2 separate regions of the Homo sapiens genome follow, and region 1 is linked to region 2. Evidence: fine-mapped expression QTL. A gene starts in region 2. The other region holds a variant in brackets. All regions are shown on one strand. Distances are between the middles of the regions. Region 1 overlaps KLHL6 (kelch like family member 6). Region 2 holds the start of KLHL6 (kelch like family member 6).

Region 1 (5,378 bases), 63 kb after region 2:
ACCAAACTGACATAGTTTTTTTCCGTCAGACTTCAAAAAAATAAATAAATAAAAGAAAGAAAACAAAACCACCACCACCAACAAAAAGTGGGTATGAGGAAAAGTCAACCACCACAGCTGCGGAGGATGCCTTGGCTGCACCTATAAAAATTCAGGGTGCACATGGCTTTGACTTAGTAAACCCACTTCTGGGTTCCATGCTAGAGAAACACCCCTGACACAGAATGTGGTCAGTAATGTTCATTTCTCCACTATTGCACACATGTAAGTCTGAAAAGTAAATCTTTGCTTTAAGTAGTTGGTGGTAGTCTATGCTGATGGGAAAATGGAAACACAAAGCTGTTAAATATTTGATTAAAATCACCCAAAAAGTCAGTTCTCCTTTGTCTTTGTCTCTTTCCCCAGCTGCTGAATTTTGTATTTTCTGTTTTTTAAGAGAGTTGCCTTCAAGAAAATGTTTACCAGATCACTCTCAAATGATCTATTGTGAGCATCTCATACTTTTATAACAAAAATTATTTAGAAATAGGATAAATCCCACTGATTGTTTTAAACAGATCAGAGCGACAAACCAGGAGAATGTTGTAGGATTTCTTAGTGATTTTTCCAGGTCTGTATCTTTGCTTTTTGGTTTAAATAAAAAGTAAACATAGAATTTAAGCTGCCATGTAATTTGCCTTCTGCACAAACCCCACTGTCCCCGCCCAGCCTTGCTTCCTGCTCCCTGTGAGGGCAAACACTGAGTCCAGGCTCCCTCTGGTCCCTACCCACCCAGGCTGGCTTGGGTCCTGCCCCCTGAAGCCTTCTCAGGGCACTGCTCACTTAGCCACCTCTTCTCTGAACTCTCGCAGCACTGAGGTGGACATGACACAGTGTGGCACATCATCCATTCTGTCTCTCCCTGTTCCCCTGCATTTGCCTCATCTCCCCTGCCAGACATCACACACCTGCTGGGTTTCTTGTATCTCCCCTCAGGGTAGGGCTGGCCTGGGGACCTGGCACTTTTGGACATGTGGGATATTATGGGAGAAGCTGTATTTCTGACACATCTGATGGTTTCTTAAATGCTTTGTATCTCTTGCAGGTGGCAAAGAAACACAGCATGATGTTTGGAAATATAATTCTTCGATCAACAAGTGGATTCAGATTGAGTATTTAAACATAGGCCGCTGGAGGCATAAGATGGTGGTGTTGGGTGGCAAGGTCTATGTGATCGGAGGCTTTGACGGCTTACAGAGAATCAACAATGTGGAGACCTACGACCCCTTTCACAACTGCTGGTCAGAGGTATAGGACACGATTTCTACCAGTAACTGCCTGTATTATTACTTCAGTGCTTTTTTAAAAAGCTTTGGAACGTGCCTGCCGTGGTGGTCAGCTTTCTGATCACTTTACTTCCAAGGAGAACAGTTTTGGTGGCTCTGAGCTTCCCTCCTCCTAGGAGCTATTGCTTCAGTATTGCTGATCAAGTCACAGAAACAATGTCCTTCCAAGTGGTGAAGGTCTGTGTGGGCACCTGTCCTAATTTGGACAGAACCCCAGATGTGCACAGAGGCTCACCCTGTCCTTAGATGGGAGATCTCTTGGTCTGCATGTCTTGGTGTAGAGTCTTGTCTCCTCAGATGCCTTCTCTCCTATTCTTCTCCACACTGGACACATGCGGATCACTTTACTACACCGTTTATGAACCCAGAGTGATTTGGTCATGTTAGAAATCATCCCTTCTTTATTTTCCCATGGATGATGAGCCACTTACAGGCCTGCATGTCAGACTTTAGTAATGCAACCTCAGGTATATATCAGACCCAGGAAAAGAAAAGCCACCTCATCTCATTTCCAGGTTATTCCCAGTTTCAAATTTTCTTTCTCCTTATCAGATCAGATGTCCAAGCATGTTCCAGCTTAATGGAATGTACAACACAGTCATTGTAGGCACAAGCAAAGGTAGCCAGGTCACCACATCTAGCCAAGACTGTCAGCCTGAAAAGTGCTATATTGAGAGCCCTTAACATGTATGGGGGACATGCCCAGGATCTTCTCAAAACAAGCCCTATCACAGAGCTGCTCCACGATCTAAAAGGATCCTGTAAATAAATGGGCAAGAGGCTCTTGGAAGTCTCCTTTACTGTCCTGGGGTTCACAGGATAGAAGCACACGTCTGACTTAATCTCAAAATCCTCA[A/G]TGCTGCCCCATAATGGAAGAGTCTGCTTACCTGTGGCCACCGTTTCAGCTTTTCTTCCTAGATATAAGCACCAAGGAAAATCAATGCTGGTACATAGTAGGCATTCCATAAATATTTTTCGAGTGGATGAGCACATGAATGAATATGAATATGCATGTATAAAACATCATTTTCCTCCCACACTGGCTGACTTCATCTGTATAAACTTATTCTTGCCTGAGAGCTGGATTCCGGGAGAGGCTGGCACATCCCAACACACAGCTTGCTCTAGCTTGCGTGGAGCCTGGAGGGAGGGTGGGAAATGCATGCTTTCATTCTTGCTGTGTCTTAAGAGGAGTCAAGCCCATGGGCCTTGTGACTATAGGCAAAAGATGCCCAGTTCTGTGTCCCGGAGCTCTGTCCTGTATCCTGGGAGCTACTGCAGCAATCTGGGCAGCATGACTGACAGCTTCTTCTTGTGCCCTGTGCCTCTACAGGCCGCACCCCTCCTTGTCCATGTCAGTTCCTTTGCAGCCACCAGCCATAAGAAGAAGCTGTATGTGATCGGGGGAGGGCCCAATGGGAAACTGGCCACAGACAAGACTCAGTGTTATGACCCTTCCACCAACAAGTGGAGTTTGAAGGCGGCCATGCCCGTGGAGGCTAAATGCATCAATGCAGTGAGTTTCCGGGACCGCATCTATGTCGTTGGTGAGTAATGGCTTCTTATTGGTCTGAATGGCTTAGAACCTGATGAGCGCCTGGCTGCAGCACGTAAACGGTGTGTCGCGGTGTCTCCAGCGCTGGCAACTCACTGCCCCTAGGACCCACTCTGGCTTTCAGGAGAGCCATCAATCGACTGTTTCTCTTGGCAAGAGGGTAGACTTGGCCTAATCAGAAGTTGAATTTTAGTGGTTAAGAGGGAAGAAACCAGAAAAATGGAGCGATGCCCACCGTGTTTCCTCCCTCTCCTCAGGTGGGGCCATGAGAGCGCTGTACGCCTACAGCCCGCTGGAAGACAGCTGGTGCCTGGTGACCCAGCTCAGCCACGAGCGGGCCAGCTGCGGTATCGCGCCCTGCAACAACCGGCTCTACATCACCGGCGGGCGGGACGAGAAGAACGAGGTTATCGCCACGGTGCTGTGCTGGGACCCCGAGGCCCAGAAACTGACAGAGGAGTGCGTCCTGCCCCGGGGCGTGTCGCACCACGGCAGCGTCACCATCAGGAAGTCGTACACCCACATCCGCAGGATCGTGCCCGGAGCAGTGTCTGTCTGACGGCAGGATGGGGAGCTGGAGAGCCCCCCCGACCCTCAGCGTACCCGCCTCACCTCTCACCCTCCTCCAGTCCCACTTCAGGCAGCAGGCTCGAGTTTGAGGCCATACATCAGGGGATCCCCTTGACTCACTTTGGGGGAACCTTGGAAGTCACAGTTTGGGGTCACTTGAGACCGGCCAGGAATGTTTGCATGACCTACCTCAGGAGGGGAGGCGAGGAAGAGTAATATTTAGCATTCAGGACCCACCCACCCTATGCCGGCTTCTGTGCCAGGCACTTCCTTTTATCGGTTCATTTAACCTGGTGACTGGCTCTTATCACTTCTAGTTTACAGGTGAGGGAACCAAGTTTCACAGAGGCTAAGTGGCGTGCCCCTGATCACTCAGATAGCAAGTAGCTACCCCAGGAGTCTAAAATCCAGGTCTTTCATCTCCGAAGTCAATGCTCTTTCCACCATGCTGCCTATCTCAGAGCAGGAAAAACAAACAAAAAACAACAACAAAACCTGGCTCTTGCTGGGCGTGGCGGCTCACGCCTGTAATCCCAGCCCTATGGGAGGCTGAGGCGGGCGGATGACCTGAGGTCAGGAGTTCAAGACCAGCCTGGCCAACATGGTGAGACCGCCCCGTCTCTACTAAAAATACAAAAATTAGCCGCGTGCAGTGGCAGGCGCCTGTAATTCCAGCTACTCAGGAGGCTGAGGCAGGAGGATCACTTGAACTTGGGAGGTGGAGGTTGCAGTGAGCCGAGATCGCCACACTGCACTGCAGCCCGGGAAACAAAAGTGAAGCTCTGTCTTCAAAACAAAAACAAAAACAAAAACAAAAACAAAGAAACCTGGCTCATTTCTTGTTTCGGCAAGTCTGCTAAAAGATTCACTCAGCACAGCAGGGAAATAAAGGTGTTTCCTGCTTTCTTTCCTTTTCTTTCTTATTCTGCATCCTCCCTCGTCCCCGCCCTTTACCAATATTTAAACCAAGGAGTCATTTGGGCTCCTTGCCAAGAACATCTCATAGGTTCTTCCACTTGAAAGGTCTGGGGGATGGGCTTGGGAAGGCCTGTTTGCTTTGAAAGAGATGAAATACTTGTGTTCTGTCCTCCTCCCATTGAAACCCTCTTTTTTTTTTTTTTGAGATGAAGTCGCCCAGGCTGGAGTGCAGTGGCATGATCTCGGCTCACTGCAACCTCTGTCACCCTGGTTCAAGTGATTTTCCTGCCTCAGCCTCCTGAGTAGCTGGGATTACAGGCACCTGCCACCGCGCCTGGCTAATTTTTGTAGTTTTAGTAGAGACGGGGTTTCACCATCTTGGCCAGGCTGGTCTTGAACGCCTGACCTTGTGATCTGCCCGCCTCGGCCTCCCGAAGTGCTGGGATTACAGGTGTGAGCCACTGGGCCCGGTCTTTTTTTTTTTAAATGATCATAAGATGGCCCATTTTGGACCGGAACTGTCATTGCCAGACAGAATTGTACCTTTAGCACATTCTGGTGCCCTGGCCTCTTAGTGTTCACCAGTTGTACTGCAATATAGACAAGATGTCTCTAGAGACTCAAACTACTGTTTTATTAAAAAAGTAAACACCTGAGCACAGCTGGCCTACACAGGAGCGACAGATTCTCCTTGATGGTACACTTTCTAGTTTTTACACAGTGATTTAGGTCCACGTTCCTGATACCCCATCCTCCTGAAGCCTTCGTTTTCAAGACTTTTAAAAAGCACTTCTACTTGGTTTTTTGATCAGTGTAGCTCAATTGTGACTTAAAGAACAGAATCTGTCCTTCACTGTAAGAGCTACAGCTTTCAAATGAGCTCACTGGAAATTCATTCTAATCCCCAAGCTGGAGAAACAGGTTAAGAGATCCTGTTTCATATGCTGTATTTAAAAAGCAACAATGATAACAACATAGTAACTGCGTTACCCAATGGACTTTATTTTCAT
Region 2 (5,378 bases):
ACTTTGGGAGGCCGAGACGGGTGGATCGCTTGAGCCCAGCAGTTCAAGACCAGCCTGGCCAACATGGCAAAACCCTGTCTCCACTAAAGATACAAAAAATTAGCCAGGTGTGGTGGTGCATGCGTGTAGTCCCAGCTACTTGGGAGGCTGAGGCAGGAGAATCGCTTGAACCTGGGAAGCGGAGGTCGCAGTGAGCTGAGATCGCACCACTGTACTCTAGCCTGGGCAACAGAGTAAGACTCCGTCTCAAAAACAAACAAACAAACAAACCTAAACTCCAAATTTTCTTGTAATTTTTATTAGAGTAAAATAAACCTATAAATGTATTCGGAAAGAATTGGTCCTTTTAATAATATTTAGTCTTTCCATAAAGGAACTTGGTATATTTATTTAAGTTTTCTTTCGAAACTCTTAGTAAAGTTTGTTAGTTTTCTTTATGTTGCTGGTTGCTGTTATTGCTAGGCATTTACATATGTTTTATTACCATTGTGAATGGCATTATTTTTCCATGACTTTTTTTTTTTTTTTGAGGCAGAGTTTCGCTCTTATTGCCCAGGCTGGAGTGCAATGGCACAATCTCAGCTCACTGCAACCTCCACCTCCCGGGTTCAAGCGATTCTCCTTCCTCAGCCTCCCAAGTAGCTGGGATTACAGGTGTACGCCACCGCGACTGGCTAATTTTTGTATTTTTAGTAGAGATGGGGGTTTCACCATGTTGCTCAGGCTGGTCTTGAGCTCCTGACCTTGTGATCCCCCTGCCTTGGTCTCCCAAAGTGCTGGGATTACAGGCATGAGCCACCACGCCCGGCCGTCAGGTTTCTTTATATGCTCCATTATAATCTTTTGGGACCACAATTGTATATTCAGTCCATCATCGATTGAAATGTCATTGTGCTGGGCATGACTGTACTTGTGACCGTTAATTTTAGATGTCAAGTTTACTGGGCTAAGAAATACCTAGCAACCTGTTAAAGCATTACCATGGGGCGTGTCTGTGAGGTTGTTTCCAGGAGAGATTAGTGAGTCTGAGTGGACTCGGTAGAGAAGATACACTCTCAGTGTGGGTGGGCACCATCCAATCAGCCAGGGGCCCAGAGAAAACAAAAACAGAAGAAAGGTCGATGTCTCTATCTCCTGAGGCTGGGATACAGTCATCTCCTGCCTTGAACAACAGGACTCCAGGATCCCCTGCCTTTGGACTTCAGGACTTACACCAGTCTCCCCACCCCCTGGATTCTCAGGCCTTTGGCTTTGGACTGAGAGTTATACCATCTTCTCTGGTTCTGAGGCCTTTGGACTTGAACTGAGCTCTCAGCAGTCTGTCATGCGACTTCTCAGTCTCCATAATCACGTGAGCCAATTCCCCTAATAATTTCCCTCTGCTATGCCTCTCTAGGTATCCTTTTGGTTCTGTCTCTCTGGAGTCCATCATCGACTGAAATATCATTATGCTGGGTATGACTGTAATTGTAATGGTTAATTTTAGATGTCAAGTTTGCTGGGCTAAGAAATACCTAGCAACCTGGTAAAGCATTACTGTTGGGCGTGAGAGAACGCTAACTGATACGCTCCTATAACTTCCCCAGGATATCATGGGATTTTAATAATGACAGTTATTACTACTTAACTGAGACATGCAGAGGTAATGAAAATACTTCAGGATCCACCGTTAGATGCACGGTCAGTAGATGTTGGGCTAATCTGAGACGTGCTATGGCAATTCGGTGTAGACCCACCCTGACTCATCCTCTGAGAAGATGCTGTTGATGGAGTTTTGGAAACCATTTCTTCTGTGCCCCCAAAGCATATTCGAAACAATAGACATTTTTTTTGGTGGGGGAAGACATGAAAGTTTGCCATGACGTTGTTTTCCCCTGGGTAGGGAGGAGGATGAAGATAGACGATCTGCAGTGCCGCCAGAAATGAGAATGTCAGGGATAAGTGGGGTTTCCATGGTTTACAAAGCACGGTTGTTGGATCATTGTGGGGTCTCAGACTCCTGGGAGGAGGAAGTGGGAGGATCATAGACTGTCTCCTGTCCATCCCCTCGCTGACGACTTGGGTTATTGAGCCACTAGGAGTACAAATGTGAAGCAGGAGGATTATAGACTGTCTCCTGTCCATCCCCTCATTGACGACTTGGGTTATTGATAGCATTAGGAGTACAAATGTAACAGCCACCACCGGAGGCTTCCTGCTCACGGATATGAGGTGGGAGATGCACCAAAATAAACACACAGCACTCACAGTGGACTCTGAGAGGACACTCCTCTTCCAGAACCCCCTCCCACACACCTATTCTAAGTAATTTCTAACCCTGTGATTACTCACAGAAAGAAGAAGAATAGAAGTTGCTGGCATTTGTAGTAACAGGATGAGAAAGTGCGAGACTTCCTGTTATGTGTGTGTGACAGCTGGTGATAAGTGGAGGGCCCTGCACAGGAAATCCGCTCAGCTCCTGCAATGGGGCCTGCCTGACACTTGGGCGCTCCTTCAGTCTCGATGTTGATGGCAGGACAAAGGGGCGCCTGGACCATGGGTGATGTGGTCGAGAAGAGTTTGGAAGGGCCCCTGGCACCTTCTACAGATGAGCCCTCCCAGAAAACAGGAGACTTGGTCGAGATCTTAAATGGGGAAAAGGTCAAATTTGACGACGCGGGACTCTCCTTAATTCTTCAGAATGGCCTGGAAACCCTGCGAATGGAAAACGCTCTGACAGATGTCATCTTGTGTGTGGACATTCAGGAATTCTCCTGCCACCGCGTGGTGCTTGCCGCAGCCAGCAACTATTTCAGGTCAGCATGCCTAGGACCAGAGTCAAATTGGGTGCAAGTTGCAAGGAAGAGGTGTGTTAGTGTGAGAGCCCAATCTTGAACAGTTGGCCATGATATTTATGGTTTACATATATATTAAGGCTTGTGTGTCTACTTAAAATATAAGAAAGGACACTATCACACTTTATTTTATTATTTATTTATTTATTTATTTTTGAGACGGAGTTTTGCTTTTGTTGCCCAGGCTGGAGTGCAATGGCGCAATCTCGGTTCACCGCAACCTCTGCCTCCTGGGTTCAAGCGATTCTCCTGCCTCAGCCTCCCGAGTAGCTGGGATTTGCAGGCATGCACCACAACACCCGGATAATTTTGTATTTTCAATAGAGATGGGGTTTCTCCATGTTGGTCAGGTTGGTCTTGAACTCCCGACCTCAGGTGATCCACCCGCCTCCGCCTCCCAAAGTGCTGGCATTACAGGTGTGAGACGCTGCGCCCGGCTTATCACACTTTAAATTTTAGGATTTAGGCCACATTAAAAGAGAGATTGGCATCATTTAAAAGCAATGCTTACATTCTATAGTAAACCTTTTGTGTATATTTCCTTGTTCCAAAGGATGGAAAATTACTGAAGTCATGGGGACTTTTTTCCCCCTTGGTCTGACTGGTGTTGGAAACATAATGTTGTCTTTGTTAATCAACAGACATAGAGAAAAAGGATGTGGCCCCTCTTCTGGAGTTGTCAAATGACTTGTTACAAATTAGGGGCTTCTTTATGTGTAGGCAGTGTGGGGAAAGGGAAAGCAGTTACAAAGATGCTTTAGATGGGAGAGGCCTCTAGTTACGATAAACTGGTGATCTCATAGTGGGAAGGCCTGAAGTCAGGAGACTTGGTTCCTTCTTGACAGTGAAACTTTAGGCAAGTCACAAAGTGCTCTGAATGTCTGTTTCATCATCTGTAAGGTGAGCACAATGATGATCACCTTTCAGGGCTGTCATAATTAAACAAGAGCGTGAAAAGGGTCCTACACAGTGTCTAGCATATAGTAAGTAGATGCTCAATATATCTTTCTTGGAATTCTTTTTCTGATTCTGCTTGATTCAGCTAAGGATGACTTATTGAGTGTTTCCCATGAGCACGTCCCTGGGGTAGGAATTTTATAGCGCTGGGAACCCAGTGAATACACCTGATCCAGTGTTCTCCATATCAGCATGGACATGGGGGAACCAGCCTGCAAGGGCAATGTGGATAATGAAGAAAGTATTTGGGAACTTGAAAAGAAATACCCTTAGAATTCTTCTTAATGAGATTCTTCTTAACTCTTGATTCTGGCTGAGGAAATTGAAAACGATTAACCTATGAAAGTATTATGGAAAGCGTTTTCTTTCTTTCTTTTTTTTTTTTTTGAGGTGCTTGGGGGGAAACGTTTCTTTGTAATTCATAGAGCAGGATCAGCAGGTTGCTGTGGGACTCATTAGGTCTCCTGTGTTGATAAGACAAGGGGATATCTGGGTTTGAGGGAAGCAGTGGCTGCTGTGTGCCAGACAGACATAGTTATCTGATTTTATTTTTGTAACAGCATGATGAAGGTGGCTGATATTTCACAGATGAGGAAATGAAAACTCAGCATTATATATCTGGTCATTGCTGGAGCAGGGACTGGGTATGTTCTGGAAATCCTTGTTACTGCAATGCAAGCTGCCACTAGGTCTGGGACTTCATTCCATGGGAAGTGTGTAAAATATAAAGTGTAAACACAGCCATCAAAATGGGTTGATATAAACACATTACTTTCTCCACCAACCTTGATCACGTGCTTTCACGTTGACTGCAGCCCCTCTCAGGAGTGAGTGAAGTCAAGTTAGCTCAATGCCCTGGGGACGCACATTTAGGTTGATCCTTTTGTATCCCTTGCTATCATAAAATGCATACCTGGAAGCAGTTTTGTTAGCGGGTTGGCCTGGCTGTGGACCAGGCCCGCTGGCTGTGTGCCCTCGAGTTGATCACTGGTCTTCTCTGGTTCTTGGGTTTCTCATCCTAAATGGGAATTTGGGCTTGGGTCCTTCCAGCCCTGCTGATCCAGGATACTTAGGGAAAGTCTCTGCCGGTCGTCAGAGGAGGCAACGGCAATGAGAAGCTGGAGAACATGAGGGTGAAGGCATCTGACTGTGTATACAGAGCCTCTCCCAAAACTGCCTGGTCATGAGAGGAAATTCCTTCAATTCTTCTCTTCAGAGAAGTGACTTTTGCTTCTTCTCTTGGGATTTTCAACGTGACTTTCCTTCTACAATGAATACTGTCCTGGAGACAGGATTCTTTCTTCCGGTGCTACTATTCCTATCAACTCCTGTTTGTGGAGCGCTTACTGTGGGCCAGGCCCTGTAGCTTCTGTATCACATACTCTAGTCCACTCCACCCTCACAACAACCTGACAAGGCAGGGAGTCCTATCCCCAGCCTACCGACGGTGAGCCAAAGTCCAGAGTGTCACAGCAAATAAAAAGTAGCCAAGCTGGGATTTAGACCTAGGACTGACGTTAAATCTGACACACTCTCTCGCTTTGTGTCTGAGGTTTTGAAAGGGGTTCTTCGTATGCTCAGGTTTAG

The links. PIP is the estimated chance that this variant, and not a neighbour inherited with it, causes the effect.
Region 1: its variant is fine-mapped to the expression of KLHL6 in whole blood (TOPMed, PIP 0.92). The same link has a PIP of 0.9 or more in spleen.

What each region holds. Positions count from the first base shown.
Region 1 is chr3:183,489,988-183,495,365 of GRCh38, reverse strand. It overlaps KLHL6 (kelch like family member 6), which reads left to right. Exons shown (of 7, transcript NM_130446.4): 5 at 1,085-1,287; 6 at 2,659-2,872; 7 at 3,138-5,378. The coding sequence ends at 3,439. Among named protein-coding and RNA genes, the nearest start is that of SNORA63E, 39 kb to the right of the region's middle. The variant A/G (reference allele first, on the strand shown) is at 2,182.
Region 2 is chr3:183,552,778-183,558,155 of GRCh38, reverse strand. It overlaps KLHL6 (kelch like family member 6), which reads left to right and starts at 2,450. Exons shown (of 7, transcript NM_130446.4): 1 at 2,450-2,795. The coding sequence starts at 2,503.